Linked DNA regions of Homo sapiens: region 2 is linked to region 1. The links come from fine-mapping of genetic effects on plasma protein levels. A gene starts in region 1. The other region holds a variant in brackets. All regions are shown on one strand. Distances are from middle to middle.

Region 1 (16,191 bases):
AGTACTTAAGACAGTGGTATTAAAGCAAGGATAGACAAATTGGTCAACGGAATTGAATAGAGTTTAGCAGCAGACTCCACACATACCCAATCCCCTGATTCATAATGAAGGCTCCTCTGCAATTCTTGGGGGGCAGGGAGAGGGGTATTTTCAATAAATGATGCTGTAACAATTGGATATCCACATGGGGAAAAATGAACTTCACACTATACATAAAAATTAATTCCAGATGAATTTTAGAGCTAAGTGTGAAAAGTAAAATAAGAAGTTCTACAAGTTTACTCTAGAAGAAAACAGAATAACTTCATGATCGCCAAATAGGCAAAAATTTCTTAAACAGAACACAAAAGCACTAACCATAGAAGAAAACATTGATAAATTACCTTCTTTAAAGTTAAGTTTATTCATCAGATGACATCATTAAGAGAGTGAAAAGGCAAGTCATACGCTTGGAGAAGATATTTGGAATACATATGTCTGACAAGTGACTTAAATCCAGAATATAAGCAAACTCCAATAGATCAATGAGAAAAAGATAACCCAATTTTACAAAATGGACAAAATATGTGATAGCATGTCTTAAAAGAGGATTTCAAAATGGTCAATAAACAAATGTGTTTAATGGCTGGGCACGGTGGCTCATGCCTGTAATCCCAGCACTTTGGGAGGCCAAGGCAGGCGGATCACCTGAGGTCGGGAGTTCGAGACCAACCTGACCAACATGGAGAAACCCCATCTCTACTAAAAATACAAAATTAGCCAGGCATGGTGGCACATGCCTGTAATCCCATCTACTTGGGAGGCTGAGGCAGGAGAATCGCTTGAACCCAGGAGCTGGAGTTGCAGTGAGCCGAGATCACGCCATTGCGCTCCAGCCTGGGCAATAACAGCGAAACTCCATCTAAAAAAAAAAGAAAAAAAGAAAATGTGTTTAATATTTTTGGTCAACAATGAAATGAAAATAAAACCACAATAAGAGGCCCCTATACACACATCAAAGTTGCTAAAATTAAAATGACTGACAAAACCAAATGTTGGCAAGGACATGGAGCTGCTGGAACTCTCTGCATCAGTCATGGAAGTGTGAACAGCAGCTGCTTTGGAAATTTGTTTGGCAATACGCCTAAAGCTGACCATTTATAAATCCTGTGATCCTGGATATTTACCCAGCAGAATAAACACTGTACATACCCCCCAAAACATGTATTAATACAAGAAGTTTCATAGCAGTTTTATTTGGAGCTAAAAATGGACAATTGTCCAAATGTCCATCCACAATGGAATGGGTAAGTAAATTGTTGCATATACATGTTTGCATTGGACTATTACACAGAAATGAAGAAAACAAACTTCTACTGATAACGACATGGATGTAACTCTTACAGATACAATGATGAGTATAAAAAGTCACAAGCAAAAAAATAAATAGTGATTTACTTTGCATAAAATTCAAAAGCAGGCAAAACTAACCTATGGTGATTATACAGGTTGGAACATTGATTACTTATGGAGGACTGACTGATAAAATATATGAGGGAGCTTCCAAGGAGCTTGTAATGCTCTGTTTCTTGGCTTGGGTGGTGGATATTTCGTGTGTGTTTAAGTACAAATTTATAAGCTATATACTTAATATTTGTATATTTCACTGCATGAAAGTTACATCTCAATTTTTTTTTTTAATGGAGGCCGGGGGTGGGAGCAGAATTACTTGAAAGCAGTACTGGAAATCCAGGCATGGTATTATGAGAGCAGCAAAACAGGAGATTTGCTGAAAACATAAAGCAGATGTGATCAGACTGATAAAAACATAACAGAGCTGAGGCACCCACAATCTCATGAAAGCAGAAAGAGAGCATCTCCAAAATAGTACATTTTCCCATTAGAACTCCAGAATTATCTCAGGTTCAGAGATAGCAGAGATGGGAAAAGGAACCGGTAGGATAGTGAACTGGTAATTTATTCATGAGCTACAAACGTCTTCACCTATTTTCTGTTTTAGAAGTGGCTAGTTCTGAATTTTTTCCCCAAGGGATAACTTTATTTATTTATTTATATTTTATTTATTTTGAGATGGAGTTTTGCTCTTATTGCCCAGGCTGGAGTGTAGTGGCACGATCTCTGCTCACTGCAACCTCCACCTCCTGGATCCAAGTGATTCAGTGATTCTCTTGCCTCAGCCTCTTGAGTAGCTGGGATTACAGGTGCCTGCCACCACGCCTGGCTAATTTTTTGTATTTTTAGTAGAGATGGGGTTTTGCCATGTTGGCCAGGCTGGTCTTGAACTCCTGACCTCAAGTGATCTGCCCACCTTGGCCTCCCAAAATGCTGGGATTACCATGACCAGCCCAAGTGATAACTGTAAATGAAGCTTATTGCTTACCAAATAAGATGAGAATAGTGATACAAAAGAGGCTCCCAGAGAAGGCACTGGGGCCAGAGAAAGTATGGCAACCAAGAAGGAGGTCTCAAATGCACTCTCTTTATCTCCCCACTCCTACCTCCTGCTTTGCACAACCACTGGAGCTAGAACCACTGTAAACAAATCTCCATTTACTCCTAAGAAAGCAGAGATTCTCACCTGGAGAAATATAGCCAAATTATTGATTCCATTTTTTTTTTAACTCACCTGTATTAGTCCATTTTCTTTTCTTTTTTTTTTTTGAGATGGATTCTTGCTCTGTTGCCCAGGTTGGAGTACAGTGGCTCAATCTTGGCTCACTGCAACCTCCACTTCTGAGGTTTAAGCAATTCTCCTGCCTCAGCCTCCTGAGTAGCTGGGATTACAGGTGGGCGCCACCATGCCCGGCTAATTTTTGTATTTTTAGTAGAGACTGGGTTTCACCACATTGGCCATGCTGGTCTTGAACTCCTGAGCTGGTGATCCGCCTGCCTCAGCCTCCCAAAGTGCTGGCATTACAGGCATGAGCCACCACGCCTGGCCCCATTTTCATACTGCCATAAAGAAATACCTAGACTGGGTAATTTATATAGGAAAGAGGTTTAATTGACTCACAGTTTTACATGTCTGGGGAAACCTCAGGAAACCTACAATCATGGCGGAAGGGGAAGCAGGCACATCTTACATGGTGGCAGGCAAGAGAAGAGAAAGTGAAGAGGGAAGAGACCCTCATAAAACCATCAGATCTCAGGAGAACTCACTCATTATCATGAGAATAACATAGGGGAAACTGCTCCCATAATCCAATCACTTCCCTTCCTGGACATGGACACGTGGGGATTACAATTGCAGATGAGATTTGGATGGGGACACAGAGCTAAACCATATCACCATCTGATTCATTCTCATAAACTGTTAATTCATAACAGAGGAGACCCTCATGTAGAAATAAGGACAGTCAAAAATCATGAAACACTTGAGGAAAACCAGCAGAAGAAGAGTCATCAAACTCAACAAGTAAATGAACAACTTCCTGATAAAACAGAAGTCATTACAACTACAGAAAAAAAAAAGCCATTCTATACAAAGAAGCAGAGTTCTTAGAAATTAAAAGCATGATTGCTGATATAAAAATATTTCAGCAGATGAAATGAAGAGCAGAACGGCATGGATAAGGATCAAATTCATGAACACAAAGTTCACTAAATTGAGTTATGGCAATCTCCCACATTCAGTAAATGAAGGCAAAGAAAGTAAAGAGTCAAAGAAAAATACTAACAGCCATGGAGGCTAGAGGCAAGTGTTAAAAAATTCCCAGCCAGGCATGGTGGCTCACATGTGTAATCCCAGCATTTGGAAGGCCAAGGAGAGAGGATAGCTTGAAGTTAGGAGGTTGAAGGCAGCCTGGGCAACAAAGTGAGACTCTATTAAAAAAAAATTCCCATGCATTCCAGAAGGGATAAATAGAAATAATTGAGGGAATGAAAGAATCAAATAATTAATAGAAAAAATGTCTTTCCTGTAGAAAGCCTTAATTCTACAAATTGAAAGGGTCCATTGAGTGCTAGGCAAGAATAATGAAACATTATATCCTCATGAAATTTCTGAATTCCCAGGATAAAGAGAAAATCCCCCAAAGCTTGGTAGATATGATAGGAGAATGACATGTCACCTATAAGGGGTTGATAACCACAGTAGCATGGGACCCTCCATCTGCAGCACTCCATCTGAATCTGGAATTCTAGACCACATTAACCTATCACTTAATTATTTTGAATCCAGAATTCTATATTCTGTTAATGTATAATTAAATTATGGGGTTCGGTGCGGTGGCTCATGCCTGTAATCCCAGCACTTTGGGAGGCCGAGGCAGGCAGATCACTTGAGGCCAGGAGTTTGAGACCAGCCTGGGCAACATAGCGAAATCCTGGCTCTATTAAAAATACAAAAATCAGCTGGATGTGATGGCGCATGCCTGTAATCCCAGCTACTTGGGAGGCTGAGGCACAAGAATCGCTTGAACCCAGGAGACGGGGGTTGCAGTGAGCCAAGATTGGGCCACTGCACTCCAGCTTGAGCGACAGAACAAGACCCTGTCTCCAAAAAAAAAAAAAAAAAATTATGAGGGCAAAATCAATATGTATTTGGACTTGCAAAGATTCGAAGTTTACCACCCAGGAATACTTTCTGAAACAGATACTCAAAGACGTCCCCAAAGAAGGTGAAGGAGGAGGAGAAGTGGGAAAAGAGGAAGACATAGGACATGAAAAACAGTGGCGAGCAAAGAAACCAATAGAGCTTGTAGCTAAGTCCATTGCAAAATAATTGAGTAAAGTATTTTTGTTTTGAAGATTGCACTATTTGCCCAGGTCGATGATACGGGTCTTCACTGTGAGCTGGTCTCTCTATCAGTGAAGGTCTGGAACCATCCGCCTTCACAGCTGTTGTGGCTTCCTCAGCGACTGTGCTGCTCATTGCTGATTTGGTCCCCACTGCCTGGCCTGCTTCTCCTTAGGGCTGTGGGTGGCTGATCCTGGGTCCGGAAATGGGCTGTCAGCAGGCTTCCTTTCAGGGTTTGTGGAATAAAAACACCAACAGCTGAGGCTTTTGCAAGTGAGGAAGGTGATGCTGTGTGTGTGTGTGTGTGTGTGTGTGTGTGTGTGTGTGACAGAGACAGAGACTGGGTGACACAGCCTGTCTCACTTGGTGTTGTCTCCACCACCTGAGGTCGGGGGAGGATAGGTGAATACTAAGCCTGCTGCTCCTTGAACTTGTCTGTTGCAGTGTCTGAAGTTTGCTCCCAAATCCAAGTCCAAATCTAAATCTTGCTGCTGCCCCAGCTTCTGCTGGGGGGATCACAGGGTCTCTTGAGTCCATTACAGTGAGGAGAGAGAGCACTATTGTAAAAATAGGGAGTCCAGGACTTGTCCCCTAAGCTGAGCTGTCCCTTTCCACCCATGCTTGTTTTGCTTTTCTGAGAATACTAGCGTTTTGGGTAAATTACACACTGGTTGTAGCACAGCCACGTGCAGCAGACAATAGTGCACTTGTTGCCCAAGGTCTACACACTAACTCCAGGTAGGGTGTTTGATGTATGTGTGTGTCTAAAGGGAGGGAGAGGTATGCTGGAGAAGGCAGAGTAATCCTACTGTTTCTCCAATAGCAGCAAAGTATCTGAGAGTCATTAAGCTTCAAAAAATGAGAAGTTGGCCTTTGTTTGAGTTAGAGACTTCATCAGAAGGGCATTTCTCCAGAGGGACAGGTCCTTCTTATCAGCCTTTACAAATCTGCTTGAGATGATGACTCCATTCTGGGAGGGGTAATGTGGCTTCTTTGAAGGTGGCCTTGGGGTTTTCACAGATGTCGAGTCAGCCAGGGTTAGATGAGGTGGGGGTGGAGCAGACTGTTACAGAGGGACTGTTACTTTGTTTCAAACACACAAGTTTTCAGCCAATATACTTCAAAGGCTTCAAATATTTAAATTATTTCTGTTAATGCAAACTTCAGGCAGTAAGTGCAACCCCAGAGTATATTAAACTCATTACAATTAGATATTCAAGCCATTCCTAAAAAACCCACATATAAACAATTTATTTACAATTTATGGGAGGCTGGGGAGGGAGGATTGCTTTTGCCCAGAAGTTGAAAGTTGCAGTGAGCTGTGATCACGCCACTGCATTCCAGCCTGGGCGACAGAGCAAGACTCTGTCTCTAAATAAATAAATTAAATTAAAAACAAAAATAACAATTTGCAAGCCTGCCAGGAGCTGTCCCAAAGCAGTCTCTGTAATCATTTATGGTCAGGAGTGTGGTAAGCAAGAATGGATTTTTTTCCAGGAGAGTCCCAGGATATTTAGTATCCAATCTCCCTCCTCGATTCTCCTTCTGGCCTTGTAGCCAGATGGGAACCCACTGGACAAACCCCAAACCTCTTCACACTGGAATCCGACACTGAGAAGAGCAGCTTGGGGGAAAATCTCCCTAGAGATACTGAACCAGTGTTCAGAATGAAATTTTTTGCCTGCCCTCTGCCTTCCCATACCCATGGCTCTCCAGAGTCCTCTCAGAGCTCTCCCGAAATCCCATTCACTTATGTCTCAGGAATATTGGGAAAAATGGGGCTTTCCAAGATATCTTTCTTGTAAACCTGATCCCATATAGATTTGCCAGAACCAAAACTAATTTGGAAAGTCCTTAATATTTGCCTATTTGATAAAATAAAAATAAAAATGGGCATAAACGTTTTTTGTCATTGAATTTTTAAAAACGATTTTAAACTTTTTTTTTTTTTTTTTTTTGAGATGGAGTCTTGCTCTGTCACCCAGGCTGGAGTGCAGTGGCGCGATCTCGGCTCACTGCAACCTCTGCCTCCCGGGTTCTCGCCATTCTCCTGCCTCAGCCCCAGAGTAGCTGGGACTACAGGCGCCTGCCACCACGCCTAGCTACTTTTTTATATTTTTAGTAGAGACGGGGTTTCACCGTGTTAGCCAGGATGGTCTCGATCTCCTGACGCCGTGATCCACCTGCCTCGGCCTCCCAAAGTGCTGGGATTACAGGTGTGAGCCACTGCGTCCAGCCAATTTTAAACATTTTTAAGGCTGGGTGTGGTGGCTTATGCCTATAATCCCAGGACTTTGGGAGGCCGAGGTGGGTGGATCATTTGAGGTCAGGAGTTTGAGAACAGCCTGACCAACATGGTGAATCCCCGTCTCTACTAAAAGTACAAAATTAGCTAGGCGTGGTGGCATGTGCCTGGAATCCCAGCTACTTGGGAGGCTGAGGCAGGAGAATCGCTTGAACTCGGGAGGCAGAGGTTGCAGTGAGCCGAGATAATGCCATTGGACTCCAGCTTGGGCAACAAGAGTGAGACTCTGTCTCAAAAACAAACAAACAAACAAACATTTTTAAGTGTACAGTTCAGTGTTAGGTCCATTCACATTGTTGTGCAATCACCACCACTATCCATCCACAGAACTTTTTTCATCTTGCAAAACTGAAAGTCGATACCCACTAAACACTAAGTCTCAGCCAGGCATAGTGGCTCACAACTGCAATCCCAGAACTTTGGGAGGCTGAAGCGGGAGGATCCCTTGAGGCCAATAGTTCAAGACTAGCCTGGGCAACACAGCAAGACCCTGTCTCTACATTTTTTTTAAAAAATTAGCTGGACATGGTGGCATGTGCTTGTAGTCCCAGCTACTTGGGAGGTTGAGGTGGAGGGATCGCTTGAGCTTGGGAGGTCAAGGCTGCAGTGAGCCATGATTGCACCACTGAACTCCACCCTGGGTGACACAGTGAGATCCTCCTGTCTCAAAGAAAGAAGAAGAAGAATGAGGAGGAAATGGAGGAGAGGGAGAAGGAGAAGAAAGCTTCTTTCAAGTTCTTTTTTAGAAAATGCTGGTATATTAACCATGCTCTCTTGAAAGAACATTTTTCTTAAGTCAAATACTTTGTCAGCAATAATCCCACTGTTCCTCCAAACTTAACACTGGTTCAAGATTCTGTTTTAATTCTTGTGACAAATACTGTTGGATGAGGAGATAATTTTTCATTATGTGATCCAATGAACTCACCATTGAGTAAGAAGTATTGTTTTAACCAAAAATATGTATTTGAAATTTAAAAATGAGCCAATGAAAAGAATTGATGAAAGTCAAGCAATCTAATGTGGAATATAGAGTAAGATGGATTGTCCTGAAATATAATTTTCAAAAAGTTGAAAACATGACTTATGCAACTATAAGATGAAAACATATCTAAGATTCTATTCAATTGATTAATGGAGGACTCAGTAAGTTGTTGATCTCAAAGGAGAACTAGCAAGATGTTAAGGTTCAAAGGAAAATCCAACATCAGGAATGATCACATGAATTTGCTAATAGGTGCCAAACTGGTTAACTAGTTAGTATCATATAGGACAAAATGAAATTAGTGGGTTTAACTTATTTATTTTCTGGCAGAAAGGACTGATCACTTATATTTCTCTTGGAAAACATTCATTTTCACTGCTATGGACATAAATCTTTTACATTATCATCAGTTTTCGGCAAGTTAACTTCTAGCCCTCTAGTGCTGCAAAATAGCCTAGTCAATAGGAAGTCCAGCGACGGTGCACCCAGCACCCCACTGAAAGGATACCCAGTAATCTCTTTTGCCCATTTCCAAGTTTTGGACAAATTTTCCTGACATTATCAATAAAAAATGTATATACATATATACTTAAGTTTATTTATTTTGCAAGGGGCCACAGTGGGGATGAAGTGGTATAGGCTGGTTAAAAATCTTAAGTGAATGGTATATTTGTTGAAACAATGACATGATTTCCAAGTTTGAAGTTTATGGAGAGCTGAACTTAAAAAATTTGTCTAAATAATAGAGACACACCGTCCATCTATTGCTCCCCAAACAGGTGCCTGTCTTTGTTGATCAAAAATAATTTTCAAGAAAGCCTGCTAAGAAAAGAGCTTGTGAGGCCAGATGCAGTGGCTCACTCCTGTAATCCCAGCACTTTGGGAGACCAAGGTGGGAGGATTGCTTGAGCCAAGGAGTTGGAGACCAGCCTGGGCAACATAGCCAGATCTTGTCTCTACAAAAAAAATTTTTTAAATGAGCCAGGCATGATGCTGCGCCCCTGTAGTCCCAGCTACTGGGAGGTTGAGGCTAGTGGACTACCTGAGCCCAAGAGGTTGAGGCTGTGGTGAGCTGTGCACTCCAGCTTGGGCAACAGAACAAGACCTTGTCTCCCCAAGAGGAAAAAAGAGCCTAGGAAGATGAGCTTTTTCTTTGTTTGTTTTTGTTTGTTTGTTTTTTTAAGAGAGGGGGTCTCACTGTATTGCCCACATGGGCCTTGAATTCCTGGACTCAAGCAATTCTCCTGCCCTTCAGCCTCTTTAGTAGCTGGGACTACAGGCATGCCACACTTCACCCAGCTTGAAGTTGATTTTTAACTACTTGTTAAGACTCCACAACTTTAGCCCTTATATGGGTGTGTTTGAAAGTGGTGAGATTTACGGCAGGCTCATGGCAGAGAGTAAACAAGTGAGGATATGGGGTGAAGTAGTGGGGTGCCTGCTCTCGGCTGCGCTCCCACAGACATCACAAGCTCAAAGCCTTCAAACCGGATCTTATTTATTTCCTTCTCCCCGACTAGTCATAAAACCTAGTGGATTCCACTCTTACACACTGCCCTCTTCACACTCATTTGTCAATGCCCAGCTGCAGGACACATCTATCTCTATCTCTATCTGTCTGTCTGTCTGTCTGTCTGTCTATCTATCTATCTATCTATCTATCTATCTATCTATCTATCTATCTATCTATCTGTCTATGGAGTCTCACTCTGTCGCCCAGTCCGGAGTGCAGTGGTGCGAGCTCGGCTCACTTCAACCTCCGCCTCCTGGGTTCAAGCAATTCTCTCGCCTCAGCTTTCCGAGTAGCTGGGATTACAGGTGCCTGCCACCGTGCCCACCTAATTTTTTTTTTTTCAGTAGAGACGGGGTTTCACCAAGTTGGCCAGGCTGGTATCGAGCTCCTGACCTCAAGTGATCCACCCGCCTCGACCTCCCAAAGTGTTGGGATTACAGGCGTGAGCCACCGCACCGGGCCAGGACATGTCTTCTATTGCCTGATTCCTGCAGCAACTCCGGGCTGGACTCTTTGCCTTCCACATCCCAACCCAACCCCAATCCCAATTCCACAGAACAGACAGAGATGTGTCAGTGATGAAGTCATTCACTGCTTGAAACTGTGACAGCTTCCCGGCGACCTCCATCACTTGGGTTAGGAGGGCTAACTTCCCTCTGCAGCTCAACGCCCCTCTCCAACCCTCTGCTCTCACTCTAGGTCCCCATTCCCCATTTCTACAACAAACTCCCGCTTAGATTCCTCCCCAACGTCCTTCTCATCCTTGGGTCTTGGTTTACTCCTTCCCTTGGGATGAGTACGGCTGTGATGGAGGTAGGGGCTGGCATCAGCGCGTCCCAAGCCGGGTGTCCTCAGAGCAGCGGGGACTGATGCCAGCCCCTCCCTCCATCACAGCCCTACTCTCTCTCACTCCCGGTGACCAGGTGTCACCTGGTCAAGTGTGTCGCCCCTGGGTGGCCTGGGTCTGCGTCTTCCGACCTCTCATCTGGGCCTTGCGCTGTGGTCACCTCATCCAGCTCCCTTTCACGTCCTGGAAGATTTCCGCCCCTTGCTCCCCTCACCCCTCTCCCCGGGGGTGCCTCCCTGAGCCCTCGAGTGGCTTGAATCCTCCGCAACATTTCCTCCCCAGCACTCTCCGGGGCTCTGCGTCCAGCTGTGTCATTATCCGATGAGTGTCTGTCCCCCTTTGCGAATGTGAGCGGCGAGAGGGCAGCAAGTGCGGAGCCAGAGACGGACGCGGAACGGGCGTGTCCTAAGCCCAGGCCCCGACAAGAGGAAGGACCCGCGCTCTGCGGCCTCCCGGGGACCCCGCAGCGCCCCCCGCTTCCCTCGGCGGCGCCGGAAGCCGCCGGCTGGTCCCCTCCCCGCGGCGCCTGTAGCCTTATCTCTGCACCCTGAGGGCCCCGGGAGGAGGCGCGGGCGCGCCGGGAGGGACCGGCGGCGGCATGGGCCGGGGGCCCTGGGATGCGGGCCCGTCTCGCCGCCTGCTGCCGCTGTTGCTGCTGCTCGGCCTGGCCCGCGGCGCCGCGGGAGCGCCGGGCCCCGACGGTGAGTGCGGGCTGGGACGGGCACGGGCGGCCGGCGGGGCCCCCGGCTGGGCCTCGAGGACTCTGGGCGCACGGACGCTTCCCCGCCCCTGGGCCGGGCCGGCGCGGTGCCGAGGCGTGGGGCGCAGGTGGGGCCCGCGCCGGCCGTTGGAGATCGGCAAGGAGGAGCTCAGAGAAGCGGGGGGCTCCCCGCCGGGCTTCCCTGCCCCCGCCCGACCCCGCGACGCCGGGGGACGCCGGTTTTAAGGCGGCCTGGCCGGGCCCCCAGGGACCTCCACTGCCCAGGAGGCGGGGTGGGGGCTGGGCGCGAGCGCGGACCCGGGCAGGGCGGCGCCCGGGGAAGGGCGGGGAGGCCAGGGCGTTCTGCGGCGCTGTCACGCTTCCGGCTCTGCGGTGGCTTTTGCATGACACATTTTTGACCCGAAGCAATTTTCTTACCACTTTTAATTTTTTCACGTTGTTAGAGAGCCGGATGCTAAATATGGTGAGAAAGACGCGTAAGGAAGAGTACAGGAGTGAAGCCATTAATTCACTCATTCATTCAACAGATGGCCCTTGAACAGCTTCCCTGTGCGCGATGAGGGCGGGCAGTGCGGGCCCTCGTGGAGCTCATTGTCTGGAGGATTTAGACCAGCAAATGTTCTATTTCCAAGCAATCGAGGGAGTTGTTTTTCCTCCTCTGCAAAATGCAGTGTTGAGCTGAGTAGGAATTACACAGAGGATTCAGACACGCAGGGGAGGTGACATTCATCCACATAACTGTAATACAAGGCAGAATGGCATGGGTGCCATGAGAAGGTGTGGGTGGTGAGGGCAGGGAAAGGGGAATCGGTGGTGACCCTTGAGCTGGGCCATCAATGATTGGTCATATTTGGATATGGGAAAATGTGAAAAAGGTATCCCAGCTCATAGCAGAAGGCACTGTCACCTCTCCACAAATGAGTGTAGAATGAATGAATTCCTTCAGAATTCAGGCCCGGGGGAGAAGGGAAGGAAGCACACGGAGGCACCAGAGGCAGAGGGCAGAGTGCCTTGATTGGCAGACCTAGGCCTTTGGACTTAGCTGTGCCTGGAAGCCACTGGAAGCCGTCTCAGGGAGTGACAAGAAAAGTGGGTCTAGCCAGTTCTAGGCGCTTCGGGAGCCACAGGTTACAGTGCAGACATGGCCAAATCCAAGCACCACACCACACACAACCAGTCCCGAAAATGGCACAGAAACGGCATCATGAAACCCGGATCACAAAGATACGAATCTTTTAAAGGGGTGGACCCCAAGTTCCTGACAAACATGCGGTTTGCCAAGAAGCACAATAAGAGGGGCCTAAAGAAGATGCAGGGCGACAGTGCCAAGGCCATGAGTGCACGTGCTGAGGCCTTGCCCTCATAAACCCCAAGGAGGTTAAGCCCAAGATTCCAAAGGGTGTCAGCTCTTGCCTACGTTGCCCACCTCAAGCTTGGGAAACGTGCTCGTGCCCGCATTGCCAAGGGGCTCAGGCTGTGCCAGCCAAAGACCAAGGTCAAGGATCAAACCAAGGCTCAGGCTGCAGCTCCAGCTTCAGTTCCAGCTCAGACTCCCGAAGGAGCTCAGGCCCCTACAAAGCCTTCAGAGTAGAGATCTGTGTCTGCCAACGTGAGGACAGAAGGATTGTCCCCCTTGGACTGCCATCTGCATGGGGCTGATGTCCTCCTTTGCTATTTGTATAAGTAAACTTGAGGCGGGGGAAAGAGGGTCTAAGGAACCCCCATCTTCCTTACTAAAACCAAACGCTGATCCTGAAGTGGAAGGAAATTTCCATGTGATGACATACAAGGAGACTTGTGGTTGAGAATCCTGCCTGCCGCCCCCACCCCCATTCTCTTTGGCTTGGGACTTTTACCATGCCTGATGGGTATTTCAATGGCTTGATCTTCTGGAGTGGCCATTTTTGTAATATTAGGTGCCCTGGTTAAGATTCCTTCCTTGGCTCTATCTCCGAGAACAGTGCGCATAGGACTTGCAGATGCTTGGCGTCTATTTCAGGATCTTCCTGTGATATCTCTAAGGTAGGAAACTGTCCAGTATGATCCCATTGAATTGTTAGACTAAGATGGCTGAACACAGCTAGTAGCTACGTAAGGTCATCTGTAACTAAAGGTTTTGGGGGTGAATTTGGGGAAACAGAAGTCAAGGCTTCCTGGTTGAGCCCCCTCTCCTTATCTAGACATTCTCCCTTCATGTTCAACCTTGGAGAACCTGGTTTTATGAAGGGCAGGTTTCCTGACAGTCGACAATGTAGGGAAAGACTGGAGGCTTGGACAAGCCCATTGAGGAAGTTGTTGCAATAGCTGGCCTGGAAGTTCTGAGGACTGGGCCCACAGTAATGACAGCAGAAACGGACTGAATGTAGACAGTAAGGTGGAAATGGACTGGAAGGAAGGATTTAATAACAGATATGAAGGTGCAAGGGAACAGAAGGGGAAAGATGACACTAAGGCTTGGGGGCTGGGTGACTTGGTATATGTTTCTACGGAAGGAGAAAGATTTGGAAAGAAAGATGATTAGTTGTTTTGGACATCCTGAATTTGAGGTGCTGTTATGGATTTGGAGAGATGAAATCAATAGACTTGATGGTTGCTTGAAACCTTGAAGTTGACAAGATTGGGAGGATGAAAGACAGATCCTTGGAGAGGATTCTTGGAGTTTAGATGGTAGATGCAAGTCGAGAAGGAAGAAGCAGCATCTGGGTAGGATGGAGAAAGACTAGGCTCATTTAGTCAAGGAAACTAGGAGATGGGAAGCCGAGAGGCAGAGATTGAGAAAAAGCCTTTGAATTGGATGGATCTGGTCAGTGGAGACCCAGAGCTAGTAGAGGAGAGAGGGTGAGAGCTAGATGTGAGGGCTCTAGGTTGAGGGCAGAGACCTTGTTTACGGAGTAGATACTCTTTTTTTTTTTTTTTGAGACAGTCTCACTCTGTCGCCCAGGCTGGATGGAGTGCGGTGACATGATCTCGCTTGCTGCAACCTCTGCCTCCTGGGTTCAAGAAATCCTCCTACCTCAGCTTTCCGAGTAGCTGGGATTACAGATATGCACCACCACACCTAGCAAATTTTTGTATTTTTAGTAGAGATGGGGTTTCACCATGTTGGCCAGGCTGGTCTCGAACTCCTGACCTCAAGTGATCTGCCCGCCTCAGCCTCCCAAATTGCTGGGATTACAGGCATAAGCCACTGCTCCTGGCCTCGGAGTAGATACTCTTTAAAGAAATTAGAAGGAAAACGAAGGTAGCATTCAGCTGGGCTGGTCAAGTCAGTCCAAGATGTTTAGAGAATGCAAAACAGACTCAAACATATTTTAGACTGAGGGGTATTATTTAGTAGAGAGGGGAAAAATGAAAAAGCAAAAATAAATGAGATAGTTAATGGACAGAGCAGGTCAAAAATTAAACTTGGGCTATAAGTGGGGGAGGTTAGTTTCTTAAAGTGGGGGGCGAGGAAGAAGATTAGAGGACTGTGTTTCCCTTCTCCCATGGCGGGCTACTTAATGAGTGCTATTCATATTTCAAAGCAAGCCTGGGTGTCCTCACTCCTCCTAGGAAGTCCGTTGCCACTATCCGCTTCTCTTTACAGCACCAGTAATACCATATTCCGTGCCTTGGTTGTACACTTATACCATATTGCAGTGTGATTGTTTACTAAACTAAGAGCTCCTTGTGGGTAGGGACAGTGGCTTGTATTAGGAATCTGGTAGGCAAATAAATGAATACCATCCAAACAAGAATAAGCAAAGGCTATTTATTCAGAACTTGCTGTGACAAGGGAGTCAGCCATCATCACTTCCATTTGGCAGAGACTCAAAGATAGGCTGGGGGTGGAAAAGTTTTACAGTAGAAAAAGGAAGGGGGTTGGGGGTGGTGGTGGTTCAGGTACGCCCAGCTGGAGAAGTTTTCTAGCAGCATGCATCCCATGTGATTGGTGAGAGGGCCATATCTGGCTTTTCTGGTTAGTCCCAAGTTGGAATTGGGGGCAAAAATTAGCGTAGCTGGCCGTTACTGATTAAAGCCTGACCATTTGGGGCTGATTGCTACAGAGTTCCTGGAATGATTGCTGCAGATTGTGGGTTAGACTTCTATTTTAATATATGGGCTGGGTGCGGTGGCTCACGCCTATAATCCCAACATTTTGGGAAGCCGAGGTGGGTGGATCACTTGGGGTCAGGAGTTCGAGACCAGCTTGGCCAACATGGTGAAACCCCATCTCTACTAAAAATACAAAAAAAATTGGCCGGGCCTGGTGGTGGGCGCTTGTAATCCTAGCTACTCCAGAGGCTGAGGCAGGAGAGCCGCTTGAACCTGGGAGGCAGAGGTTGCAGTGAGCCGAGATCATGCCACTGCACTCCAGCCTAGGTGACAGAGCAAGGCTCTCTCTCTCTCTCTCTCTCTCTCTATATATATATATATATATGATCTGGCCATTGTCCATTTGTATATTCAGTCTGTCACTGGCAACATGGGCTGAATGACATTAATTGGCATCAAAGATGTTTTGGGGAGGAGAGCTGAAGTCAGTTGAACTGAAGTCAGATGACCTGAGTGTAAGGAAAGTGTGTTTCGCGTAATTGATATGGCAGGAGGGTGTTGGTGGCTGGGTGGGGTGCAGGGCCCAGGGGAGTCCAGAGGGTAGGAATGGGCGAGGAGGGGTAGAACCAGTTAGTCCTGTTTCTTAACCTTTCTCTGGCATTCGTTGCTAGAGTCAGGCCTGTTGGCTCAGGCCTGGCTGGAGGTCAGGAAGTTGTTCTTGCTGTATACAAAGGTCACCTGACTTCACTCATCATGCATTTCATGCTTGATCTTCCCTCTGTCTTCAGGAATCACAGCAGCACATTCACTATTCAGGGTGAGCCACAGGAGGAAAGAAGAGAAATAGAGTGAGTGGATTGTTTTGGAGTGATTTAAAGTTACTTAAAATAAAGGGTGCAGGATTAGAGTTGATGAAGATGCCCACCATGGCTTGTCTTCCACCTCCAGGGACTTGGTCCTGGGTGTATTCTTGGTCTTCTGGTCAAATCCTAAAATGGGATGCTAGGTCTCTGTAGCTCAAAATCCCAAGTAGTCTGTTGGCCTCAG
Region 2 (16,191 bases), 55 kb after region 1:
GCGTAAGCCACCTTGCCTGGCTACTTTGTAGGATTTTCTGTTGTAATAAATAAGGTAGTGTATATCTGGTAGACTACCTTGTGTTTGGGAGTATTTCAATGAATGCTATATTCTCTCTCTCTTTCTTCCTTTTCCTTTCCTTTCCTTTCCTTCCTTTCCTTTCCTTCCTTTCCTTCCTTCCTCCTTTCCTTTCCTTTCTTTCCTTTCTTTTCTTTCCTTCCTTTCCTTCCTTTCTTTTCTTTCTTTTCCTTCCCTCTCCTTTCCTTCTCCTCTCCCTCTCCTTTCCCTCTCCTCTGCCTCTCCTCTCCCTCTCCTTTCCTTCTCCCCTCTCCTCTCTCCTCTTTCCCCTCCCCTCCCGTTCCCTCCCTTCCCCTCCCCTTCTTTTATTTTTGAGATGGAGTCTCGCTCTATTGCCCAAGCTGGAGTGCAGTGGTGCATTCTTGGCTCACTGTAACCTCTGCCTCCCAGGTTCAAGCGATCCTCCTGCCTCAACCTACCAGGTAGCTGGGATTACAAGCATGCGCCACCACACCTGACTGATTTTTGTATTTTTAGTAGAGACAGGGTTTCAGCATGTTTGCCAGGCTGGTCTTGAACTCCTGGGCTGAAGCAATCCTCCTGCCTTGGTCTCCCAGTGTTGGGATTACAGGCGTGAGCCACCATGCCTGGCTGAATGCTATTATTATTAAAATTACTGAGGCCTGAACAACTTTCTTATAATTCCCTGGCACAAGATTAATACTGGTTTTTGTGGGGCTTTTTCTCAGCTCTCATCTACTTGGTGTTTGGTATGTGTGAATTACCTGTGTTGGATAATAAATATGGAAGTAATGTCTGTCCTGTTATTTAGACGTATGATCTGCTGATGTCTGGTTTCTTCCTGAGGGGCTGTTGGCATATCGTAGCAGCATTTATTGCATCTTGAACTGTGATAAAGTAGTAGCAAGCTATCAATGAACAACGGTGTAAAACATACGATTTTAAGCGGACCTTGTGGAGGTACAAGAATTATAAGACAAAGACTCTGTCCTTGAGGAACTGTCCATATATTCGGGAAGGCATGTATTCATAAAAAGACACTAAATCTGCAAGGCAGGAAATAAAGGTCATATGAACAGTATAGATAATGCTTGTATAAGGATAGATAATACTCGGCTGAGTGATGGCTCACGCCTGTAATCCCAGCACTTTGGGAGGGCGAAGTGGGCAGATTTCATGAGCCCAGGAGTTTGAGGCCAGCCTGGGCAACATGGTGAAACCCCATATTTACAAAAAATACAAAAATTAGCCATATATGGTTGTGCACGTGTGAGGTCCCAGCTACTTAGGAGGTTGAGCTGGAAGGATCACTTGTGCCTAGGAGGTTGAAGCTGCAGTGAGCTGTGATTGTGCCACTGCACTCCAGCCTTGGCGACAGGAGTAAGGCCCTGTCTCAAAACAAAACAAAATCCCCTGAAACAACAGAAAGAACAGATAATACTCTATACTTCGTATATCTCTAAGTGTAGGTAATAGTCTTTATTCCACCCCCCTTCTCACCCTCACATCCAAACTATCACCACGAACATTCAGTTCTGCTTCCAGAATACATCACAAATCCATCTCTTCCTTCCATTTCCATCCCCTCTGAAGTCCATCCAAGACCCTATCATCTCTCTGTTGGACTACTGCTGTAGACCCTGGCTGATGTCTCTTTTTTTATTCCTATTCTTCTCCCAACCTTTCTCTACCTAACAGCCAAAGTGGTCTTTTAAAAACCTAAATCAGATTTTTCATTCCCGTACTTAAAACCCAACAAGAGCTTCAGTTGCTTTTAAAATAAAACCCAAGATTTATAAGGCCCTGTGTGGTTTGGCTCTGCTTTTTTCTCCACCTTCATCTCATGCCAGTCTCCCTCTCACTAACTAGGCTCCTGCCATGCAGGTTGCTTTTCCCTTTTTGGAACCCACCAAGAGCTTTCTTATCTCAGGGTCTTTGCATTGGTTCTTTCGTTTGATTGAAATATTCTTCCTTTGGTCCCAAACATGGCTTGCTCATTGCCATCCTTCAGGTCTTAATGTATGTGTCATTTCTTCAGAGAGATCAAATCATTCTAACTACTACTCTATTTAAAAAGTGTTTCTGGGAGGATCACTTGAGGTCAGGAGTTTAAGATTAACCTGGCCAACATGATGAAACTCTTGTCTCTACTAAAAATACTAAATTAGCTGGGCGTGGTTGCAGGCACCTGTAATCCCAGCTACTCAGGAGGCTGAGGCAGGAGAATTGCTTGAACCCAGGAGACGGAGGTTGCAGTGAACCGAGATTGCACCACTGTACTCCGGCCTGGGTGACAGAGTGAGACTTCATCTCAAAAAAAAAAAGATTGTAGGCCGGGCATGGTGGCTCACGCCTATAATCCTAGCACTTTGGGAGGCTGAGACAGGCAGATCATTTGAGCTCAGGAGTTCAAGATCAGCCTGGGCAACATGGCAAAACCCCATCTCTACTAAAACTACAAAAAATTAGCTGGGTGTGGTGGTGCATGCCTGTAGTCCCAGCTACTTGGGAGGCTGAGGCATGAGAATCACTTGAACCTGGGAGGCAGAGGTTGCAATGAGCTGAGATCGTGCCACTGCACTCCAGCCTGGGCAACAGAGTGAGACTGTCTCAAAACAAACAAAAACAAAAATAAACAAAAAACAAACAAAAAAAGTTTTTTTGAAGTTGAGGCCGGTAAGATTGCTTGAGTCCGAGAGTAAGAGACCAGCCTGGGCAATACAGAGAGACCCCGTCTCTACAAAAAACTGAAAAATTAGCTGGGCATGGTGGTACATGCCTGTGGTCCCAGCTCCTCGGGAGGCAGAGGTGGAAGGATTTCTTGAGCCCAGGAGGTCAAGGCTGCAGTGAGTTGTGGTGGCACCACTGCACTCCAGCCTGGGCAATAGAGTGAGATCACAACAACAGCGACAACAACAATGGAAGTTTTCCCCATCCTATCACTTAATAATAATTGTTATTATTATTTCTATATAACATTTGCCACAATCACAGTTATGTGTTGACTTATTATTATTGTTATTTTTTGCCTATTGGCTCTCCCTAAGCTCCATGAGGGCAGAAATCTTACCCACTTTGTTCACTGCTATAATGACTAGCATGTAATAGGCACTCAATAGACAGGAATAAATAAACGAATGAACATAGATCTTAAAAGTTCAGAGGAAGACAGGATCCCTTTGTTAGTAATGGAGCAGATCAGGCACGGGGAAGGACTTTGCTCAGTGTGAGGGTGAAAGAGTGCACCTGCAGAAGAAGGTGTGAGTGCAAAAGCAGAGGAGAGTAAGCTGAGATGGGAGGCACGGGGACTATAGAATTTCAGAGTTGGAACAGCATTTTTCTTTTTCTTTTTGAGATGGAGTCTCACTCTGTTGGCCAGGCTGGAGTGCAGTAGCACAATCTCAGCTCACTGCAACCTCTGCCTCATGGGTTCAAGTGATTCTTGTGCCCCAGTCTCCTGAGTAGTAGGATTACAGGCGCATGTGCCACCACGCCCGGGTAATTTTTGTATTTTTAGTAGAGATGGGGTTTTGCCATGTTGGCCAGGCTGGTCTCAAACTCCTGGTCTCAAGTGATCTGCCTGCCTCGGCCTCCCAAAGTGCTGGGATTACAGGTGTGAGCCTCTGTGCCCGGCCAACTTTCGAGAAGCTGTGGGTGTAGGGAAAAGAATATGACTGACATGCCTTAAACTCCTGGCCATCCCACAATTGCCTGTGTAACTTTGGATGTATCATTCTATCATTTTGAGCAGTCTTTGCCTGTACAGTGGGGAAAATACCCCTTAACATGGATGGGTATTTTGACTATTAATGCTTTATACTTAGGATCCTGTTGGAATGCATATGATGACAAATGGTAGCCATTTGTACCAGGATTTCATTCAGATTGTCAGCTGAGGGTGTGCGCCAAAATGAAATTTGGAGCTTTGTAGAAATTTGAATACCAAGAGCCCAATTCAGTACTACTGAATCAGAAGAGTTATCTCTGGGTGGGTGTGGGACTCCAGCACGTGCGTTTTTCTAAAGCTTCCCAGGGGATTCAGACGTATAGCTGTTAGAACCATGCGTTTAATCCAAGCCGTGCTGAAATCCTCTCTAAATGTCTCTTGCTGAGGGATTGTTCAACTTGAATAGCTCTGTTAACGGGGAACTCACAGAGCCACAGGTCCAAGCTGCTTCCTAAAGGGGCATCCACCTGAGCCTTTGAGCCTTAATCCCTAGAGAACAAGTTACTGATTTCTTATCAATTGGGTGATATTTGGTATTAATTTTTTTTTAAAATCTTGCAGTCCCAACCAAAGTCATCATGCCTTCCATTATTCTTGGTCACGTCCAAGATGGAAGCCAATCTAGTTATCTTTTGTACTTTTATCCCTTTTGTACTTGTGCTTCTCTCCTAATCCAATGACTTGTCACTGGGTTCCCTCCCAGACTTCTCCACTGAGCACTTTAACCTTCCACCTTCAGTGTACATGAATCTATACCTCCAACCTCTTTAGTGATGTCCCCTCTACTTCCTGCTGTAACTGAACTCTGTCTTAAATTAGAAGATGTTTCAGATGTCAACAATGTGACTAGGCAGTCTTATGAAACATTAACCATCTCTTTGGTTGGTTGCTTGTGTACACACAAATATATTCATTCTTGGAATGCCTTGGGCCATTAAATACGTCTAAAGGTTTGATGCTGGGAAAACATGATGAGGGCCAAGGGGTCTTGTGTCTGGTGAATATGCATGAAAAGGGAACCAAAGCTCTGTGGGCAAACATGGGACATGAGAGATAGACAGGGTTGGAAATTAGATGAGATCCTGCTCTGGGAAACCTCCCTCCTGGAAATAACTCTGGAGTCCTGCAACAGCCCAAGCATCCATAATGGGATGTAAAAGAGTGCAGTTGCATTAAATCCACACATTCTGTATCAGAGGCTCATTTAAAAGAAGCCATCTATTTCTAAGGCCAAGGATGGCTGATGGGGATATGGAAACAGGTTATATGATTTTCTCTAGTTTGAATGCTGTTATCTCAATAAAAGGACTTCTGTTTAAAAAGCCTGGATGTTAGGAGGGCTTAATTTTCTTGGCTTTCTACGGATTGGGGAGAAAATCACAAATCAGAATGAATGCCTCAAGTTTTTTTCTTTCTTTTTTTTTCTCTGACCATGGAAGAACAGATTTTTTTTTTCTTTCTGCGTTTAGGTATAACTGGGACTATTGGTGACACTTGAAATTATTAGAGCCATCTTATTTTATAGTTATTATACTTTCTTGAATAACATTGTATCCATGAGTGCTATTGTGTGACATGAAACATTAGTATGCTTTACTTCTTCCCTTCAACTCACTGCTCTGGTTTTATTGAAATAATTTGAAAATTTATTTTTATTATTATTTTACATTGTTCAACTTTTAGTTCTAGAATCCTTTACTAATAGTTATGTCAAGCTCTACAGTCACATTTAAACGATTATGGAGACATCCATACATCTTGCTGATTTCATTGTTCCTTGGTGTTTTCTGTAAAACCTGTCTGCCCTGCACACTTATTCTTACGATATTTGTTCTGATTCATTTTTTCGATTTTTTTTTCCCAGAAAAGATAAACGGATCGATTTTTTAAAATTCTGAAATATCTAAAAATGACTTTCTTGGGCTCTTAAGTGAAGTATAGTTTGGCTGGGTCTAGAGTGGTTATGTCATAATCTTTTACCTGTAGATAGTTCTTTGTAAATATTTAATTGTCTTTTAGTAGTCAGAGTTGTAGAGAAAAAAATTTCGTATCAATTTTGTAATTCCGGGTTTGTCTCCTCCTATGCAACTGATTTTTTTCTTTGAAAGATGCATATAAGTTGAATCCTTAGGAGATAAATACTTTCTCCATTAATTTGCTTTAAAAAGTTCAGAGATTTTGAATATCTTCTATTTAACAGTCAGTTGGCAATAATTGCTACAATTGCGTTATCATCTACTCTGGGATTGATGATCTGAAGATACATAGTAAAATGTACTAGAGAACTGTAATATTTAGAAGGACCCTAAGATATATTATTTCATAGATCAATGAATTCTTTATAAGTAAATAATTGCATAGTTTGACTATTCTCTATGTGTGCATGTTTGGAAATTTTATTAAATTCAGACATACTTATATTGGATTATTTGATGGGGTTAGTGTTTTCTCTTTTCCTGTTTGAGTGGCCTCTATCACTATTAAATATTTATTTTAAAGATATGAATTGTAGGGCTGGAAGTCAGGGCTTATAACCAGTGCTGTCTTGGTTCCCATTGCAGAGATCAACTGTGGCAACCCTCCAGAAATGCGGCACGCCATCTTGGTAGGAAATCACAGCTCCAGGCTGGGCGGTGTGGCTCGCTATGTCTGTCAAGAGGGCTTTGAGAGCCCTGGAGGAAAGATCACTTCTGTTTGCACAGAGAAAG[G/A]CACCTGGAGAGAAAGTACTTTAACATGCACAGGTACAGATTCTGTTCTGGGCTCCTGCTACCCAGGAACAAAACAGCCAGTGGGAGCCGAGGGCCTAAAACTATCTGATTGCTGCTTCACTCTACATACTGTACCCAGCTCGGCTATTTACCTGGTTGTGCACCTGGCTTTAGATTTGTCAGCTAAATCCTGAAGATTTAGAAGGTGGATTGGAAAAATAAGTTGGATAGAAAATGTTATGCATCCATCTTTTGAGACCCACCTTAAATCGCTGTGATTCCTGTCCCCTCTGCTTGACTGTCTGAGACATTTTTCTCCATGAACCATTTTCTCAGAGGGGCATGCTCCTAACTTAACACCTGTTGACCGCTTTTCAGAGAAAAGGTGGTATGACGAAAAATAGTTTTTTAATGTTTCTTAATTGTGTTAACACACAAAAAACATACAATTTAACATCTAATATAGTTTTATTTCTTTTTTTGAGATGGAGTCTTGCTCTGTCACCCTGGCTGGAGTGCACTGGCACGATCTCAGCTCACTGCAACCTCCACCTCCTGGGTTGCAGTGACCAAGTGATTCGCCTGCCTCAGCCTCCCGAGTAGCTGGGAATACAGGTGCCCACCACCATGCCCAGCTAATTTTTGCATTTTTAGTAGAGATGGGGTTTCACCATGTTGCCCAGGCTGGTCTCGAACTCCAGGTCTCAAGTGATCTGCCTGCCTAGGCCTCCTAAAGTGCTGGGATTACAGGTGTGAGCCACCATGCCTGGCTTACCATCTAATATAGTTTGGATGTTTGTCTCCTCCATATCTCATGAGAAATGTGGTCTCCAGTGTTGGAGGTGGGGCCTGGTGGGAAGTGTTTGGGTCATGGGGGTAGATCACTCAGGAATGGCTTTGTGTCCTCCCCTTGGTGATGAGTTCTTGCTCTTAGTTCACATGAGAGCTGATTGTTAAAAGGAACCTGGCACCTCCTTCTCTCTTTCTGGCTCCCTCTCTTGCTGTGTGACATGCCTGCTCCCTCTTCACCTTCTGCCACGATTGTCAACTTCCCAGGGCCCTCACCTGAAGCAGATGCTGGTGCCATGCTTCTTGTACAGCCTGCAGAACCATGAGCTGGATAAACCTCTTTTCTTTATAAATTACCTAGTCTCAGGTATTCCTTTATAGCAACATGAAACTGATGAATACACCATCTTAACTATTTTTAAGTGTGCAGTTCAGTAGTGTTTATGTATACCAATCTTGTTGCACAACCAATCTCCAGAACTTTTTCATCTTGCAAAACTGAAACTTTATACCCATTAAACAACAACTCCCCATTTGCCCCTCCCCACAGCCCCTGGAACCTCACCCTTCTACTTTCTGTCTCTTGTGAATTTCACTACTGTAGGTATCTCATATGGTACTTGTTCATTTGAGACTGGCTTATTTCACTAAGCATAATGTCTTTAAGATACATCCATGTTGTAACATGTGTCAACATTTCCATTCTTCATATAGTCCATTATATGAGTATCCCATGTTTTGTTTATCCATTCATTTGTTGATGGACACTTGGGTGTGTGTTCCATCTTTTGGCTATGATGAATAATGCTGCTATGAAATGTGTGTACAAATCTCTCTTTGAGACCCTGTTTTCAATTCTTTTGGATATATATCCAGAAGTGGAATTGCTGGTGAAAAGGAGTCTTGAGGCCTGGTGCAATGGCTCATACCTGTAATCTCTGTACTTTGGGAGGCTGAGGCAGTGGATCACTTGAGGTCAGGAGTTCAAGACCAGCCTGGCCAACATGATGAAACCCCATGTCTACTAAAAATACAAAAATTAGCCGGGTGCAGTGGCTCACACCTGTAATCCCAGCACTTTGAGAGGCCAAGGCAGGAGGATTGCTTGAGCCCAGGAGTTCAAGACCAGCCTGGGTGACATAGAGAGACCCCATCTCTACAAAAAATTAAAAATTTGCCAGGTGTGGCGGTGCACACCTGTAGTCCCCAGTACTCAGGTGGCTGATGCAGGAGAATTGCTTGAACCCAGGAGACAGTCGTAAGCCAAGATCACATCCCTGTACTCCAGCCTGGGGGATAGAGCGAGACTCTGTCTCAATTAAAAAAGGAGTTTTGAGACTTCACTTCATATTCTAGCAATGCCATATATTAGCTGTGTGTCATTAGGCCAGGCATTCTGAGCCTCGGTTTCCTCATCTATAAAAGAGGGAAATAAAGTCTGTTTTTCTTACCTCAGAGAGTGTTGAAAAGGAATCGAATAAGATAATCTGTGGGGCGCATTTTAGAAAGCTGAAAGCACCATGCACATGTTAGTCTTTTTCCTAAAGTTGTTAGCCTCATGTGAAGATCTTCTCATGAATCAGAAGCGTGTACTTCTACATGATTCATTTCACACCTCTGCCTCTGAGGAACAAGGTGAGAAAAGGCAATGATTCTTACCATTTGTGGTGGTTGATCAGAAGGTATGACAAATGGTTGTCACATAGTCCCTGGGAATATATTTCTGGCTGTTGACTTGCTTGGCTCTGAAGACAGGTCTCTGAAGAGTGAAATCTCCAGGAGCTTTGATCTGGGTCTCTGGTTTGACTAGCAGCAGAATTGTGGTCTTGCCCACCAACATTTTCCATCGGAAATTCTGGCCAGAGCAAACAAGACATGTAGGCCCCTGGGGATTATTTGTCCATAGAGCAGTGGTTCATAACGATGTTGGGGATGGGAATTTGAGGAAATCTGTCCATTCATTCAATAGATATCTATTTAGCATACACTATTTGTCAGGTACTTTGTCGGCATGACCCTCTTGGAATTTACAGTGCAACAGGGGAAACAGACCTTTTCCCCAAAGGTATGCACATACACATACACATATAATGTTTTACAAGTAGCAAGGTGTTCCTGGACCTCTGAAATCCTTGAGTAAAGCATTCTTGGGATAGATGGAAAGCTCACCTCTGCTGTTGAGGCCCTGTATGTGCCATGCAATTCCTATATTTGGTTATCTCCATCGCGAATTCAAGAGGATGTAGGCCAGAGACTGCAATCAGAAAAACAAAGAAGGGTAGAGCTGGATAAGAACCCAGAGATACAATGCAGTCTTCTCTTAGAGAGGTCTCATTGACTTGCCCAGCCTGCACAGAGGAGCAAGGGCAAACGTGTAACTGACACCAAAGACTCTAGGGGGGTCCAGTCTTAATAATTGGAGCTAATGCCACGCTGGACTAGACTGATGGTCACTCCAACCTATCATGGCATTTGCAAAAGCATCTCCAAGAGTTATTTGGAGGAGGTGAGGTAGCTGCCTCCTGGAATGCTGAATTCAATGTTTGGGGAAGTATTCCCGACACAGAACAACTGCTGGAGTCACTTGGTAAGAGCTGGGTATAGCTTGTGAGCCTCAGCCATTTGCTTCATTGCTCAAGCTGCTCTGCCTCCAACATTCAGCAGTCAATGGGGGTATAAGAATTAGTCACCGCATGAAAAACCAGTGGATCTGCATGGGGCATAGTAAGCTATTAATTAGCTGATGCTTGTAGAGCACTTTGAAGAACAAACATGTTATGTAACTGCTAATTATAATTACCATCCTCAGCCTGCTACCTTTCACAAAGTCTGTGGCTCCAGCTGCAGCTGTTTCCATGGGTTTATGCAAGCTTTGATTTAAGAAAAGAAAAGGCATTCTCCCTGAGAGCTGTGATCTTTCTGTGAGGAGGCCTTTATGCCCTCAATCAGGATTGGCAGCTAAATTCAATTTCCGCAGATAAAGGGGATGATTTACATGCTGATTAATTCATGGTACAGTGCAGATGATCTCTGGGTGGGTAGGTAGGAGAGGCTTCTGGTAATGTAGTGAGAGCTGCTGATTACCATGGCTCTTGCTCAGCTACCCCTCTTCTTTTTTCTTTTCCCTGTTTTTCACTTGTTACCTATTTCTTCACTCCCCTCATCCCAACTGTCTCTGTGTATTTTGTTGTTGTTGTTGGAGATGGAGTCTCACTCTGTCACCCAGGTTGAAGTGCAGTGATCACAGCTCACCACAGCCTCCAACTCCTGGGCTCAAGCGATCCTTCTGCCTCAGCCTCCCAAGCAGCTGGGACTACAGACATGACCCACCACGCATGGCTAAATTTTAAAAATGTTTTTTGTAGAGACGGGTGTCTCACTATGTTGCCCAGGCCGGTCTCAAACTGCTAGCCTCAAGCCATCCTCCTGCCTCTGTGTATTTTATATTTCCCTGTCTTCGTGTTCACGTTTGGCTTCCCCTCTCATCTTTTTCTACTTTTCTGCTTCTCTCTGAATGCCTCCTACCTCTGTCCTGTTTTCACTGTTCATCTTCCTGTTTAGTTCCAAACTGGGTAGAATAATTTATCTTTACCTGGGTTGTTTGTAAGGAAGCCACTAGTCTTTGGGATTAGTAGCACAAATCGTATGTGCTTTTAATGGGGTGTGAGCTCTATCAAGCTGGTGGGACTTATTTTTTCCTGCCCCCTCCTTCCCCGCCAGGCCAGTTTGGACTGGAAACTCCAGACAGCTGGGAATTAGGCAATCACTTTCGTGTCTGGAAAAACCCCAGGTGGAAGCTTGATGTTAATGAGTCGGTTTACCTCAAGATCAAAGAGACTGATTCATTCTTGATAAGACTTTCCCTGGCTTCCATTCTGCACAGGCCATTTGGCTTTTCATGTTTAGAATCTGAGTTAATGATTATAAGGCTGACGCTCACTCACTCCACGCTCTCAGAAGGGTAACATCTCTGCTGGAACAGAGGCTGTTTATCGCTAGGATCCTTTCTGTGCCTCTAAACTGCTCTGGGCACTGCTCTGATGCCTCCAGGACTCCTGTTGGCCTCTGTCCCTTCTGTTTGGCTGGTGACCCTCTTCTCCAGCCCACTGGGTGCTCAGTTGCAGCCACACACATTTCAGATGGAACAGAAAGGTCAGCCGGAATAAATGGATACATTTACATAAATAGCCACATGGCCGGATGTATTGGAATATGTGAATGAGGTTTGGACCATCAAGCATTATAGCTACTGCTGGCTGAGCATGAACGTACACACCCAGGGCTCAGCTAGGGACCTTAATGCTCGATTTCATTTCATCCTCTTAAAACCCTTTTGAAGTAAGCTTTGTTATTTTCATTTCATAGATAAGTAATCTGAGACTCATAAAGGTTAAGTGACTTTTACATGGTCACTCAATAATTAGCAAATGGTAGAGCCAGGATTTGAACTGAGGCCTGTAAGCCCAGAAAGACCACATTCTTTCTCCTACATCAGTGTCTTCCAAGCTTGAATTATTTGTATACCACCCTGACACAATGTTTGCCATAATAAGAGTATTATTTACTTAGAGTGTTTCCTTAAACAACCTAACCTTAAATTTATAATTCAAATTTATTAAGGACAATATATGTGATCTCATGAGTTTGATGAAGTAGGTGTATTTTTCTGATATACACAAAAACTGATACATAACGAACAGATAAAAATGTATTCCTGGCTGGGCGCGGTGGCTCACGCCTGTAATCCCAGCACTTTGGGAGGCCGAGAAGGGTGGATCACCTGAGGTCAGGAATTTGAGACCAGCCTGGCCAACATGGTGAAACCCCGTCTCTACTAAAGATACAAAAATTAGCTGGGTGTGGTGGCACGCGTCTGTAGTCCCAGCTACTCGGGAGGCTGAGGCTGGAGGATCACTTGAACTCAGGAGGCGGAGGTTGCAGTCAGCTGAGAACATGCCACTGCACTCCATCCTGGGCTACAGCGCAAGACTCCGTCTCCAAAAAAGAAAAAAAGTATTCGCGTGCCACCAAAAATCATCCCAAAGTGTGCAATATATTTTACACTAACGTACTCTAAGCCATGCTACTCCTACTTATTTTATGTGAATCTAAGACTTCAAAGAAAGAAAGGAAACACATGAAAACTTTTATAGCCAAACATACATTTATTCAAGTAGGCACTGTGGGAAGCCATACCCTGATTTCTGTGGTGCTGCCATTATCATCATGTGTTTGCCTTGGAATCCTATTTGATAATGTCCTTTGGAGGTAGTTTATGAGCCGTATTAGAAGATCAGTTACATTCCTTTTGAAATCAGATGCTGTTTTGACTAGAAATGATGCTGAGCTTGCTTGACCATCTGTTTGGGTCACCTGGATTTATTCTCTATGACCTTTTGCTGTTTCCAAAAATAAAGAAAAAGGATATAAAATTGGAAACCAAGGGAGTACACTAGACCAGCCCCTGTCCTTGCACAGTGGGACTTCTGAAAGAGTAGTCTGGGCTCACTGTCTTATTCCCTCCCCTCCTATGCTCTTCTCAGCCTACTGGGGGGAAACCAGGCATCGAACACCCCCACTTCACTGTAGCATCTCACCAAGGTGACTGATGACTACCTAACTGCCAATTTCATGTTCCAGTTTCAGCTGTCATTCTTCTCAACCTTTCCACAACATTTAGCATTGTTGATCCTTTATCCATCCATTCAACCAGTTCAACCAAATAATACATAGTTTTTAGTATCTATATTTAAGGCACTGTGCTAGGGCCTGAGGATAGAGAGAGAAACATGGTCTTTGCCATCGTAAAGTTACATTCAGGAGAGGTGGTCATTATATAATGACTTACGTATTTAGTTACAAGTGTGTTAAGTACCACATACAGAAATACTAGATGCTAACAAAATACCAAAATACATAACATTATGTACATCTATATCTATATATACATAACATATATATGTACCTGTGTGTACACACACACACATAGAGTAAAGCAAAACAAAGGCTCTTACTTTATCACTCACTGAGACTTTCTCTCCCCAAATCCAGTGAGACTTCAGCTGGACACTGTGGGGGCCTCCTTCTTTTAAGCCAGAGAGGCCTCTGTGTTCTACAACTGGGCAGGCTGAGGGCCTGCTCTTCCCACCTCTACCCAAAGTCAAACCACAGATCTAATCCTGATGCCGTGGGCACTCCATGAGGGGAGAAAAGCCATGTGAGAGGAGAGAGGGAGATGGAGTTTGCACCCTCTGCCTTGACCTGCTCCAGGCCCTTCTTGGCTAGGGGATGAGGAGGCTGTGGGAGACTGGTGGGAAAGAAGGCTGATAATTTTCTTAAAAGAATTTATTTTTATTTTTTAGGGACAGAGTCTTGTTGTATCACCCAGGCTGGAGTGCAGTGGCACGATCTCAGCTCACTGCAACCTCCGCCTCCCAAGTTCAAGTGATTCTCGTGCCTCGGCCTCTTGAGTAGCTGGGATTACAGGTGTGCACCACCACACCTGGCTAATTTCTCTATTTTTAGTAGAGACATGTTTTTGCCATGTTGGCCAGGCTGGTCTTGAACTCCTGGCCTCAAGTAATCCGTCTGCCTCGGCCTCTCAAAGTGCTGAGATTACAGGTGTCAGCCACTGTGCCTGGCCTTGGAAGGCTGAGAGACACTCTTTCAAGTCCTTCCTTTCCTTCCTAGACATCAGTCACTCTACCAGCCTCCTGCCTCTCTTCTGCATTGCCTTTTTCCTCTGGTTCCCCCCTGGGTTTCAGTGTTTCCCAGTGTTCTGCCATTGGGCCATTCACTGTCTCTGTCCTACCTGCATATCTCACCTGCACCCATACCTTCAACTAACATTCACAGATCTATGACTTTCAAGAGTACTTTTTCCCTACATAGTCAGCAGATAACATCGTCACAGCCCAGTGCCTGGCATGGCAGGATGCTTGGCATTTGATAGCCATTCAGTTAGTAGTGAGCAGGGAATGAAAGAGCCCTGGGACAGCTCCAAAGAGGACTTCCAGAAATGTTTTCAGTTATCAGCACTATTGGAATGAGGGCATATAGTCTCCATTAAAAGGGCAGCATTAATGTAGATGTTGAATATCTGATTCTTTTATAAAGGAGTCTTTCCAACTAATTTGTAGGCACCTGGAGGGAAAAGCAACCAAACTTTGTTAAACTGCTCCCTGGGATGAAATATCTGACACCCCTATAATTGGATCTGGGTCCCATCTGTGCAGAGAGCATGGCACAGGCTGGAGGCAGATGGCATCTTTGAGATGCCATTTACAGTTGTCATAGTGAATGAGCAAGAAGGAAGGACAAGAAAGAAAACTCCTTTCTAATCTCTGCTTCGATGACAAAGGAACTGAGAGTAAAAAGGAAATTCGCTTTGCTGGCAACTCAGAGAGAAGATGAGGGCTGGGCTGGTGCCTTTTCTTTCTGGACCAGGTGGTGAGTTAGCATCAAAGGGATGTGTAAGTGAGCAGAGATGCCAAGAGCTCTGGGGCTTTGAAGGGCAGCAAAGAGGGTAGAGGCCAGAAATATCTGGGGCTTGTTCAGGCTGATAAAAGACTGGTACCAACATCATCTTTATGCTACCCAAGGGGGCGAACTGAAGGTCATTGTGTCTCTTAGGGTACCCATGCTCATAATTGGAGTATTTCTTTTCTTTTTTTTTTCTTTTTTTTTTTTTTTGCAATGGAGTCTCATTCTGCCGCCCAGGCTGCAGTGCAGTGGCACAATCTTGGCTCACTGCAACCTCTGCCTCCCAGGTTCAAGCAGTTCTCGTGCCTCAGTCTCCCAAGTAGCTGGAATTATAGGTATGTACCACCACGCTTGGCTAATTTTTTTGTATTTTTAGTAGAGATGCGGTTTCACCATGTTGCCCAGGCTGGTCTCAAACTCCTGACCTCAAGTGATATGCCCATCTCAGCCCCGCAAAGTGCTAGGATTACAGGCGTGAGCCACCGCACCCACTTGGCCCACAATTGGAGTATTTCTTTGATTTCAAATTGTGTGTGTTCTAGGGAGAAATACTGATATAGAGATCCAGGAATGCTGCAGACAGCCATAGGTGGCCTTTCTGGTATCTCGGCAGGAGTTTGCCTATTTTTCCCTCTCTGCCTCCATTGATTTTCACTTGCTAATAGATAACTTGGGCTTACCCAAGACCAGGTCATGTGGGACACAGAATCTAGGCATTGCTGCTGAAGGGATGATTTAGTAAAGATATAAACTCTTCTTTGGGCAGAGAGGTCAGTAGATCTGGGTCAATCCAAAGCTAGCATTGGTTCTGAGTACAGGAGAATAGGATTGGCCCTACAGGTACCTAAGGTGCAGGCTTCCTTTTGCACTTGGAGACTGCGAAGAGATTTACTAGAAGGGAGAAACGGGAGCTGAGTTGTGGAGAGTCATTTTCTGACATGGAGAAATAGCTTTCTCACTCTTCTTAGATGGGAGCCTTTCACTGGGTTTATATTTATTATGCAGTAGAGAATCAAATCCCAGGCACCAGGAGTGGGAAACAAGGGCAGTAAAACAGGGAAAGAAGGAGAGTCAGCGTATGATGCCTGATTGTACTGGTCTCCACAGAGGGTGGGCATTACCACATCTGTGTGACAGTGTCCTTAGACGCTGAAGAAACTAAGTCTTTGTTGGACAGCCCTTCAGAGGAAAGAAAGGAGGAAGGATTTCTCTACCAGCTCCTGTCCCCACAGGATTTTAACTCCCCTGCACTTCCAGATGGCATGTGCTGGGGTGTGGGTGCTGCAGCAGGGAAGTCCCAGAATAGGAGGCAAGACCTGGTCATGTTGTCAAAACCCATCCAGGGATGGGACAAGGAGCAGGGGAAGCTGAGAGAGGCTGAGGAGTTCTTAAGAGGTGTCTGCTTCAATGGGAAAGCTTGAGCTGGGGCTGTGGAATATCCCTTTT

Alleles and levels. Positions count from the first base shown, and alleles are read on the strand shown. Strength reflects both the effect of a copy and how common the allele is.
For the plasma level of the protein whose gene starts at base 10,925 in region 1, allele A in region 2 goes with a lower level than allele G (moderate association).

What was found. PIP is the chance, under the fine-mapping model, that this variant and not a neighbour inherited with it causes the effect. The UK Biobank Pharma Proteomics Project read protein levels with antibody pairs (Olink). The fine-mapping took linkage between variants from a reference panel, not from the people measured, so its PIPs are less certain.
Region 2: its variant is fine-mapped to the plasma level of the SUSD1 protein (UK Biobank, PIP above 0.99). The variant lies in the coding sequence of SUSD1. If it changes the protein, the assay may bind it differently, which can mimic a change of level.

Annotation. Positions count from the first base shown.
Region 1 is chr9:112,170,031-112,186,221 of GRCh38, reverse strand. SUSD1 (sushi domain containing 1) reads left to right here and starts at 10,925. Exons shown (of 17, transcript NM_022486.5): 1 at 10,925-11,089. The coding sequence starts at 10,987. It also overlaps the pseudogene RPL29P20. RefSeq lists an enhancer at 5,024-5,173 and a silencer at 10,807-11,466.
Region 2 is chr9:112,114,573-112,130,763 of GRCh38, reverse strand. It overlaps SUSD1 (sushi domain containing 1), which reads left to right. Exons shown (of 17, transcript NM_022486.5): 6 at 6,328-6,507. Among named protein-coding and RNA genes, the nearest start is that of SUSD1, 53 kb to the left of the region's middle. RefSeq lists an enhancer at 9,699-10,270. The variant G/A (reference allele first, on the strand shown) is at 6,475.